Homo sapiens: one gene and its partner. The protein of the gene in region 1 purifies or fractionates together with the protein of each later gene. This does not show direct contact. Each region holds a gene or a part of one and is shown on either strand. Other genes may lie near its edges.

The links.
Region 2: the proteins of NUP62CL (region 1) and NUP88 purify together in Homo sapiens (affinity purification with mass spectrometry; 2 studies listed by BioGRID and IntAct, with this or other methods). This does not show direct contact.

The regions. Positions count from the first base shown.
Region 1 is NC_000023.11:107,147,401-107,154,435, reverse strand, and holds part of NUP62CL (nucleoporin-62 C-terminal-like protein), read left to right. Parts: intron 1-189; coding exon 190-340; intron 341-932; coding exon 933-982; intron 983-1,129; coding exon 1,130-1,264; intron 1,265-6,626; coding exon 6,627-6,651; 3' UTR 6,652-6,693; intron 6,694-7,035.
Region 2 is NC_000017.11:5,384,311-5,388,675, reverse strand, and holds the end of NUP88 (nuclear pore complex protein Nup88), read left to right. Parts: intron 1-723; coding exon of another isoform or gene 724-771; coding exon 772-897; intron 898-1,005; coding exon 1,006-1,071; intron 1,072-1,209; coding exon 1,210-1,290; intron 1,291-1,565; coding exon 1,566-1,692; intron 1,693-1,849; coding exon 1,850-1,968; intron 1,969-2,335; exon of another isoform or gene 2,336-2,406; coding exon 2,407-2,470; 3' UTR 2,471-3,843; downstream 3,844-4,365. UniProt on the Homo sapiens protein: Component of nuclear pore complex.

The DNA.
Region 1 (7,035 bases):
TCAAGTGACTTTGAGGGGTTGTTTTTTTTAATCATCTTTACCAGTTATGTTTGTTTTCTTGGGAAGCAGGTATGGGAAATTCCTTACATGCTGTTTTCTTCTCAGAGTCCTCCTGTGTTCGTTTTTAAAATCTGATCACACTTTTTAAAGTATGATTATTGGATCATCCTGCATCTTTTTATGTTTTAGTGTAGTAGCAACTCCTGTGATGACATATGGTCATCTGGAGGGTCTTATAAATGAGTGGAACCTTGAGCTGGAAGATCAAGAGAAGTACTTTCTTCTCCAGGCCACTCAGGTCAATGCTTGGGACCATACATTGATTGAGAATGGTGAGATGGTAAGAAAATATTTTCATTAATCTACCTACATTGTGCAAGTATTTGCAGATGAACACAAGAAAATAGACCTGTGTTTTGTGGTTTTCTTTGTTGTTGTTGTTTTGTTTATGTTTTTGTTTTTTGAGACAGGGTCTTGCTCTATCACCTAGGCTGGAGCACAGTGGTGCAATTACAGCTCACTGCAGCCTCGATCTCCCTGGCTCAAGCAATTCTCCCACCTCAGCCTCCTAAGTAGCTGGGACCACAGGGGCACACCAGCACCCCCAGCTAACTGTGTGTGTGTTTTTTCAGTAGGGATAGGGTCCCACTGCGTTGTCCAGTCTGGTCTCAAACTCCTAGGCTCAAGTGATCCTCCTGCCTCAGCCTCCCAAAGTGCTGGGATTATAGGCATGAGCCACCATACCCAGCCCTGTGGTTAATTTTCTATTCCAATATTGGTGAGCAGCTCAAAGTATATTCCTTAGGCAATAAGTACCCTGAATAAAAGGAAATCTTTCATATTTGAAGTGTATTTGAGAAAATTAATATTGCTCTAAAATTGTTATATAAATTCAAATACTTATATTGTTGTATTCATATTTCTCTTTATAGATTCGTATTTTACATGGAGAAGTGAACAAAGTGAAACTGGATCAGAAAAGGTAGAACCTTAGATTTCCTTGGTTGAAAGATTAAAGACCTATCTTTTTATTCAGTGTTTTTTTTTTCCTTCTGTAGTTTGTTAACTCTTTTCTTTTTGTCACTCCAAATTCCTTTCATCAGCCTTTTTATTAACTTATTTTATTCAGATTGGAACAAGAATTGGATTTTATCCTGTCACAGCAGCAGGAACTAGAATTTCTGTTGACTTATTTAGAGGAGTCTACGCGTGACCAGAGTGGACTTCATTATCTGCAGGATGCAGATGAGGAGCATGTGGAGATGTAAGTAACTGAAAAAAGATTGAAGAATGGGGCAGGACTTACGTATTCTGAGAGCATTCCAGGAACAGAGGGGAAAAGTCGAATTGGAAGGCAAGGAATACAAATCGGTAGAAAGGGACAAGCTTTTGTAGTTGACATTTATCAATTTGTTTGATTGTTTTCTGGTTATCTTTTCTGGATGCTTGTAAATGAGGAAATCATTCTGGCAATTTTGTTTTATAGCATTTTGTTTACTGTTATTACTGTCAACCTTATGCATGTTCACTGTAAAGTTTTTGTATTTGTCAAATTTGTTCTTAAATTAGAAGTACAAATTTTATGTGTATGGTGTCATGGTATTGTGGGATATTTATGGTCTCCTCTTTATGTTGATTCTGCTAAAACTAATAGTCATGCAATTGCTTTAGTGATAAATCATTTGCTATTTTAAAGGCAATTTGTTAATCTGGAGGCAAACTGTATAGCTTTCAAAAATGGAGTGATTTTGTCAATGTCTTAGGAGGGCTATATTTTATTTGTGAACTCTTCAGTCTTTACCTTCTGTCAATACAGTGCCAGTATTCCCAAAGTAACTTTATTTCTCTGGAACTGAGGTTTGGTAATTGGCCAATTTATTAAGTATTAGAATTTGTATGAATGAACAACATAATCTAGATTGAGACTAAATTGGACACATTTTATCAATGACTTATTATGAGTTAAGACTGGGCCTGTTTTTAACATGCTTGCAAGTTAACTTTTTTGTAGGCGCATTAAATGTGGTAAGTACAACTAATCTATACTAACCTAAATCAGTTTCTGCTTTTGTATTTCAACCTTTGTGAATTTTTCTTTTCTTTGTATTGCTTTCTATGCATTCTATCATTTTTTTGAAACATATAGAGTTACATTTTTGGCCATAAGATCCTAACTGTAGTTTGAAGAAATCTTCATGACATTAGTTCCTTTCCAGTTGCTCCTTTGTAGTCATATATATATATATATCTGAATATATATATATCTGAATATATATATATATATCTGAATATATATATATCTGAATATATATATATATCTGAATATATATATATATCTGAATATATATATATATATCTGAATATATATATATATATATATATATATCTGAATATATATATATATTCAAGATGAAGTCTTGCTCTGTCGCCCAGGCTGGAATGCAGTGGCACGATCTCGGCTCACTGCAACCTCTGCCTCCTGGGTTCAAGCGATTCTTCTGCCTCAGCGTCCTGAGTAGCTGGGATTACAGGCATGCGCCACCACACCCAGCTAATTTTTTGTATTTTTAGTAGGGACCGGGTTTCACCATGTTGGCCAGGCTGGTCTCGAACTCCTGACTTCATGATCCACTCCCCTCGGGCTCCCAAAGTGCTGGGATTACAGGCATGAGCCACCGCGCCCGGCCCAGATTTGTATTGTGATGAAATATTTACCAGAATCTTCAATAATGTAGGCAACCAATTCTATGGCATAAGTACTATGCCATAGAAAGGCAGTAGATAGTTGTTACCTACAAATCTAATTGACTCTTTCAATCTTTATACACATTAAGGTTGAAAAATCCTCTGGCCACTTTAATTCTCATAAACATATTTATTGACTGGGTCGTGTGTGTGTGTGTGTGTGTGTGTGTGTGTGGTTTGGGTGGAAATCTCGAGAATTTAGGCAACTAACTTGTGAACTTAGCAGGTTTGTCTATCTTTGATTATTGTGAAGCTCATTTCTCAAAACATCTTTTTTGCCTGATGAAGTATATTTATATGAGGTTTTATTTTGAAAATTTGTGTATTCAAGATCATTGAAGACATCTCAGCATCTATTGAATATTGCCAAACCCTAAATAACTTCTCTTTTGTATGTAAATGTGCTATAGGTGTATTTTGACACCTTAAAGGATTCCTTTGCTCTACAGATCCCCAGGGTATTCACCTAGAGGATAAATAGGTGAAGGTAAAAAGGCAAGGTAGATAAAAGTCTTCTCATTTGGAGTCTTTTTAGAACATGGTAATAATAACGTCACAAATGCTGCATCCATGAAAATATATCAGTAGTCATAACTGAGCTCCACTGAAAAGACAGGGGAATTAGGGCAAATCCAATTGGTAGTGTCATGTTTATATATCAATAACAATAGGTAGTGGAGAAAACACTTTTTGTTAATCCCTTTATTTTACTTGCCTTTTCAGTTACAGATTAGCAGAAAGTATAGATGCTCAGCTGAAACAAATGGCCCAAGATCTCAAGGACGTTGTTAATCACCTGAATACATTTGAAAGTTCTTCTGACACTACTGATCCGGTGTGTTTACTGCTTTGTGTACTTAGGCAACCAAGATTTAGTATGAAATTAGCATACAGCCAGGTATGGTGGCTCATGCCTATAACCCCAGCACTTCGGTAGGCCGAGGCAAGAGAACTGTTTTAGGCCAAGAGTTTGAGACCAGCCTGGGCAACATAGTGAGACCCTGTCTCTATCAAAAATGAAAAAATCTATCTGGGCATGGTGGTACATACCTATAGTCCTACCTACTCTGGAGGCTGAGGTGAGAGGATCACTTGAGCCCAGGAGTTGAAAGCTGCAGTGAGCTATGCTTGCACCACTGTGCTCTAGCCTGGGTGACAGAGTGAGATCCTGTCTCTAGAAAGAAATTAGCATTCTGTGGTTCTTTTAAGCTAGTCCCTTTTTTCCGTCTTCTATAGTGTTTCTTCCTGCCTCTAGAAATATGAAGCCCCTTGGGTGTGGTTAGTGGAGCAGGAAACATCTAGAGGCAGAAAAGGTTGTGAGTTTTTTGTGGTTATTCCCAGGAAGGTGAAAATATTACTCTTCCCTAAGTTGTCATGCTTTTCTCCCTTATTCTTCACATAACTAAGTATGTACCTGTATTTATTTTTCTGTTCACTTACTAGCCAGTTCATTCTTCTTTTTACATATTTGTTTACATACTTATATAAGTGTTAGTAGGTATGCTTGTGTCTGTTCAACACAACCAGGCAATCCTTAATTTATGGTTAGATTGTATTTTAAAATTTGTTAGGTTGACTATTTGAGACTTTACATTTTTCTATAGAAACTTGGTGAAATATGGTTATTAGGTTTACACCTGCCCCCACAGAATACTATTTAGCTCATAATAAATGTATTATATCAGTGGAATTACAGCTGAGGCTCCAATTAGAGTTAAGGTGCTGTGAATTAATTTGGCAGTAAGAAAGAATTGTTTTTTTTTTCTTTCTCTATACTCTGATTAAACAGCTTATTTCCTGTACCTTTCCCTGTTGTCTTAGCAGCTAAATGGAGTCCTCCTTTTCCCGCTCCCACTCTGTGGCAGTAGTAGTAAGAGGGATCTCCCATTGTGGGAGTTCCCATTGTGCTTTCTATCAGTTAATCATAATCAGGAGTGAGGCCAGGATCGGGTAGGTGAAGATGAATGACATATATGTAAGTGGTGATTATTCTTTAGTAAGCTCTTTGTTCAATTATATACAGACAGTTCTTTATCTACATACACATTACCATTTTTTAAATTATGAAGATACAGTGTGTTATAGCTGAGAAAGTATTAGAATTTTGTTTAAGTCATTTAATCTCTCTGGGTCTTGGCTCCTTCTTTTTGCAAAATGTCAAGGATAGACTAAATGATCTGTAGGTCCCTTCCCGCTATAAAAATTATGCCATTCTGTACTTTGGGTGAATCTAAAGTTGAACAAAGACAAATATAAATTAATCTGAAATTATTCATGCTACCATGTCCCTGTGTTCACACAAATGATCAAGAGTTTACAAAATACAGATTTTCTCTTAATGAAATATTAGATTACCATTGTAATTCCAAAATTCAAAATTGTTTTGTTGTAATAGAATTTTGGTGCATAGGTAAATATATGCAGATTTAGACATTCAGCAGAGTTGATTTCTAGTTTCTCTGTGTTGAATTAATATAAGTGGAGTGTTCTCAATCAAGTAACTAAAAGGAGACTATAATTCTGTCTTTGTCCATTTTCTCTACTTAGCCCTGGATTGTTTTATTTTATTTTAGTAGTGGGTAGTAAATGGTTTGAGTCTTTTTGTTTTCCTGGCAGGGGTGATTGGGATGTTTAAGATGAGTCAATTAAAGGGTAATTGCTGTTTGATTGCAGAATAAAAGAAGAAAGAGATCACTGACAGCTCTTTTTGCAGATAGCATAAATCCTTGGACAAGAAACGGGAAAAACATTTTCTGAACAATAATATTCCTGTAGATAATTTATTTTAACCGGATTAACAAAGCTTTATTACTCTGGGTCATATACTAGGGTAGAAAAATAGGAGCTATGTGTTCCAGTATTCACGGTGATGAGATTTATCTATTTTTATTCCCCCTTTTTTTGTGAGCGGCAATGGGAAAGACCACCTAATGTCTAAAAGTTTTATTAAGTAAGTTCATATTATGCACTGTGTTATTCAGTCACATTTTCTTACAAAATCCATAAGGAAAATTAAGTCATCTATATTAACAGTACCCTGATAATATACTGGTGTATTTCTTTCTAGTCTTTTTTGCTATGCTGCTAAAAATACTTCTTTTGTATTAAAGAGTACTGGAAACTATATAACTTTTTGTATTCTATCTTCACTTAATATTCTTTCATGGTCTTTCCCAAAAATTTTAACCATTCTTTGAAAACATGAGTTTTAATGGTACTATAATGTTTCATCAGGGTTGACTTTACCATGATCTATTTAATCATTTTTTGATTGGTAGAGATATTGTTTCCAATCTTTAGCCAATATAAAATAGTCCAGTAATCACCACTTATATTTAGATTTGATTATCTCCTCTGGATAACGGAAATAGAATATACTGACTGAGTCAAAAGGTATGAATATTTTAAAGCTTTTGATATGTATCATAAAAATTTACATTTTGAAAGGTTGGGTCAATTTATATTACTATTGGCTATATATGAATGTAACTATTTTTTCCCACACACTCGATAACTGAGTAAGACCATTTTTAAAAAATTGCTGATTTGGTTGACAACTGGTGCTATTTTTAATTTTTTTATGTGAATTCATTGTCTTGTGAAATGTGTCTTAATGTTCTTTATACTGTGGTAGTCAGTTTCTTATTGAATTGTAGGTATCCAATTCATGATAGTTACAAATAATTAAATTGAACCAATATATAAAGATAATGAACATTGCAAATATGAATTAGCAACAAAAAAATTAGTATTTAGTAATTCTCAGTCCATTTCTTACCAGAAGAAATTAAAAGTCACTTCCTAATGTCAATTTCTTATGTTTATTTTTTATTTACCACCTCAGAATAATCATAATCTAAAAGTCTTATATGTATTTTTAGCTCCACCAGATCTGCAGAATTCTGAATGCCCATATGGACTCCCTGCAGTGGATTGATCGGAATTCAGGTGGGAGTTTGCTTGTATGCCACTCTGTGTATTTATTGCAAGTAGAAAACGTGATACATGTCAGTTGTATGCTCCATGACCAAACTCATATAAAAGCTGTTGTATGGGTGTTGCTTAACGCACAGTATGTGTATTATAGTTCTGAAAAACTGTAATTCCTTATTTTTTTAAATGAAGTACACATGGGATAAACTAGAAATTAATGAAAATAGAGGATGGATAGGAATGGGGCACATAGAATTGGGATAGAAGCAAGACTTCTATGAATATGCCTTTTTACACAGTTTTGACTTGGGGGCCATATAAATGTTTTACATACCAAAAAATTAGAATTAAGTCAAA
Region 2 (4,365 bases), on another chromosome or scaffold:
TATATTTGATCAGCTAGTGAATGGGGAGCAGGAGGGAAGTGGCACCTGAGAATGATAAACAGGAAGTGTTTAAAAAGAAGTTAGGCTAGGCCGGGCGTGGTGGCTCACACCTGTAATCTCAGCACTTTGGGAGACCAAGACGGGTGAATCGCGAGGTCAGGAGATCGAGACCATCCTGGCTAACACAGCAAAACCCCATCTCTACTAAAAATACAAAAAAAAATTAGCTGGGTGTGGTGGCAGATGCCTGTAATCCCAGCTACTTGGGAGGCTGAGGCAGGAGAACCGCTTGAACCTGGGAGGCAGAGGTTGCAGTGAGCTGAGATCCCACCACTGCACTCCAGCCTGGGCGACAGTGAGACTCGTCTCAAGTTAGGCTGGGCACGGTGGCTTACAGCTGTAATCCCAGCACTTTGGGAGGCCCAGGCAGGCGGATCACCTAAGGTCAGGAGTTCAAAACCAGCCCGGCCAACATGGTGAAACCCTGTCTCTACTAAAAATGCAATAATTAGCCAGGCGTGGTGGTGGGCACCTGTAATCCCAGCTACTCGAGAGGCTGAGGCAGAAGAATTGCTCGAACCTGGGAGGTGGAGGTTGCAGTGAGCCGAGATAGCACCAATGCACTCCAGCCTGGGTGACAGAGCGAGACTGCATCTCAAATAAATAAATTAAAAATATAAAAAGTTTAAAAAGCACCTGTGACTTGAGTCTATTTATTTTCAGTTGTTTTACTCAGCTAAGGAAAATAAAGGTAGAAACTTTGTTTTTAAGAGCTTCTGAAAAGGACATAGCCCCTCCTCCTGAAGAATGCCTTCAGCTCCTCAGCAGAGCCACCCAGGTGTTCAGAGAGCAGTACATTCTCAAACAGGACTTGGCAAAGGAGGAGATTCAGCGGAGGTATGATGTCCTGTGTTCACAAACCATCGATCCCTGGCTGGTAGCTGATGCTGTATGGTAGCCTAGACCTGGCTTCTGAATAAACTCTATTTCTTTTTGTTTTTAAAGGGTCAAATTATTATGTGACCAAAAAAAGAAACAACTAGAAGATCTCAGTTATTGTCGAGAAGAGAGGTAAGTGTCAAAAATAAGAAGAATACAATAGGTCAGTAAGACTGGAACCATATTCTCACCCTAAGATGCTGAGCCACATTAGGTGGTTTCAGCATCAAGGGGTGGACCTCAAGAGTCTCTTGTGTCTTACATCATTAGGAAAAGTCTGCGGGAAATGGCTGAGCGTTTAGCTGACAAATATGAGGAAGCTAAAGAAAAACAAGAGGATATCATGAACAGGTCAGTGGGCTGTATAACATTTAGTTACCTAGTCAGGTACTAACAACGATATTTAAGAAAATGGGCATTGGCAGGTGCTTACATACCTACGGAACTGAACTGATCCCCCTGCCTCTCCTCTGAAGTATATGTTGGGGAAAACATGAGGCTCTCCCCTAACCCTTCCTATGGGGCCTACTTCAGAAACACCAGATTCATGAATTATGAGCTTGTGATTATGTTTCTCCTAATTAGTAGAGACCTTAAATTGAGATGTTTGCTTGCCTTTTCTAAAGGATGAAAAAACTACTTCACAGTTTTCACTCTGAGCTCCCAGTTCTCTCTGATAGTGAGCGAGACATGAAGAAAGAATTACAGCTGATACCTGATCAACTTCGACATTTGGGCAATGCCATCAAACAGGTAGGAATAGATCCAAACTAGCTAAATTTGGTAATTTTTCTTAAAGCACTTATTCTACAGAAAATTTTACAAAAATGTAAAAAGAACAGATTCAAATAGATACTGTGAAAATGTGTGGCAAACCACTGCCAAAATATCTATTATTTTAATACTTAAGGTTACTATGAAAAAGGATTATCAACAGCAAAAGATGGAGAAGGTGTTGAGTCTTCCAAAACCCACCATTATTCTCAGTGCCTACCAGCGAAAGTGCATTCAGTCCATCCTGAAAGAGGAGTAAGTAAATACTTCCAATCAGCTATTATCGTGAGATAGTTTTTCCTTTACAGTATGCCAGAATCAACCTGTCTTAATAGAAACCTGAATCTTGGTATTTGCATGTCAAGTAATTACTGGGATGAGAGCCACATGATACATAGGGACTTAAGAAATGACTATGGTGGGAGGATTGAAAGGGATGACCTTCTAGTAACATGATTTTGTTGTGTGGCCAAAGGTATTTTACAGTAATTATGTTCAAAAATATTTCCAGTACTTGCACCGTTTGCCACCTTAAATGAATAGTGAACACTATTGCTATCCACCTGAAACCTTCAGCTGTTAATTTTAGCAAAGCAGTTCTTAGATGTTTCAACATTACCAGTTTAAATTCTTAAGAATCCATATAAATGGTTTATTATAATTCCAAAAGTGAGTGACTTTACAATTTTACAGGGGTGAACATATAAGGGAAATGGTGAAGCAAATCAATGATATCCGCAATCATGTAAACTTCTGACACCACCAGGAGCTGACTCACACCTGAACTGAACACCATTGAAGGCTTAAACCCATATTGTAAAACAGGTAGAATTATCTAATTTATAAAAAGGTGTTTTGATGACCTTTGGTGTGGTTCATCTTTTTAAATATGTTGTTTTATAATAATTGAGTAAATGCTTTTATTTAAAATTTGGAATGTGCTTTATAACTCAAGCCTACAGTTGTGTTCAGCAAGGACTCAGGATTATTTCACACTGCACACTGCCAGAACCTCCCTGAACCCTATTGAGTTTTCTCCATATTTGAGCAAGTTAGTTATTCTTGTGAGCTGTGTTTTAAAGTAGCAGCACCAGAAACATGACTCTGAAGAGGGATAGAACCCTAGGATTCAAAGGAGAAGACCACACAGTGTACTTGGCAGCAGCTTTTTTAATTTGAACACTTTCTTCTTGAGGACACACCTTCAGTACAGTTAACAAATGGTTACACCTGAAATCTGCTGAGAGCAGAGCTCAAGATCCACAATTGCAAAGGCCACTGCTGGCTCACTTCCTCACAAGCTGTATTACCTTTCAGAGCTGAGTGAGGCTGTGCTCTACGTCCCAATACTTGTTACTGAGTGGACATGAGGTGCAAGTTTAGCACCTTAAAGGGAGAAAAAAATAGGTTAGTATGCAGAATGTGATTTTGTCCTCACTTCACCTTAAGTCATCTTTTTACACTTGCCAATGTGAGTTCTGAAAGGTACTACTATATCTGCTTAGAAATGGCTGAGTGACTGTCAATTAAAAGCCACATGATAAGGTAGGTTACAGGTAAGAGGTAAATCAGGTTAGACATGCATGAGAACATGTAGGCACAGACTGAATATAAGCACAGGAACACTCGTGAAACCCAACTGAGCTTTTCTTTTGCCTAGAAGGGCTAAATCCTGCCTTCTACATCAGTTCCCATTTATGCTGAAAACCCAGTTGAAAGAATTGTTTCCTACCTGGACAGTGACACAGTAGTTTGTTTCATACCAGAAACACATTGCTAAACAAAACTTAAGAGTCTCAGTTTGGGTTTTTCTACAATAAAGTGAATTCCAACAGTTGGCATTTGCCACAGTAGAGACCACTAACCATTCCCTAATTGTGATGATTTTATTACCCAGCACCATCTTCTGGAGAAAAATATCTGTAAGGTGCTCAGTCTCAGCAGAACACTTCACTGCAAGCTCTAGTTCAGTCAGTTCAGAAAGGCTGTGAATTGCCCACCCTGATTTACAGCACTAATTTTAATAATCTGAAGACAAATTCGCTTGGGGCTTATCCAAGGGACTAGTCTTAAACCTACGTAATTTAAATTGATTGCATTTTATAATTAATAAAATCCCCTGTAACTCAATAGTTATATGTTTCCTTTATCTAAACCATGTAGCACTCTTTATAAAGGGACTTTAAACCAATTAAAATAATGTTTCATGTGCGGCAAGCCTTTAGTACTATTTCCATAATTGGTATTTATTTTTAAATTCATAACCATGAATGCAAGACTACAATAATAACCCAAGAGATGAGGTATGTAGTACTTATCATTTGTCCTATGGAAGACAGAAGTACAGAAGATCTTTAGGGTAAGTCCATAGTGACCTCATTTATAACAAAGACAATTCACTTTAAGTTGATGGTGGCGTTATGTGAACAAAACAATCTACCTAGTTCACTAACTCCCAGAAGGCTCTTTCAGGTACCCTGCTGTTATGCAACCAGTCTCAAAAATGATTTGAAAACCATCTTACTTTTGAACCTCCTGGATGATGAATCCATCCACTGGATATTCCTGGGACAGTACTCTCAGCAGGTATTGATGAACATGAATCAATTCTTTGTGCTTTCTGTAGCACTTCATAAAGTTATGGCAAAGACC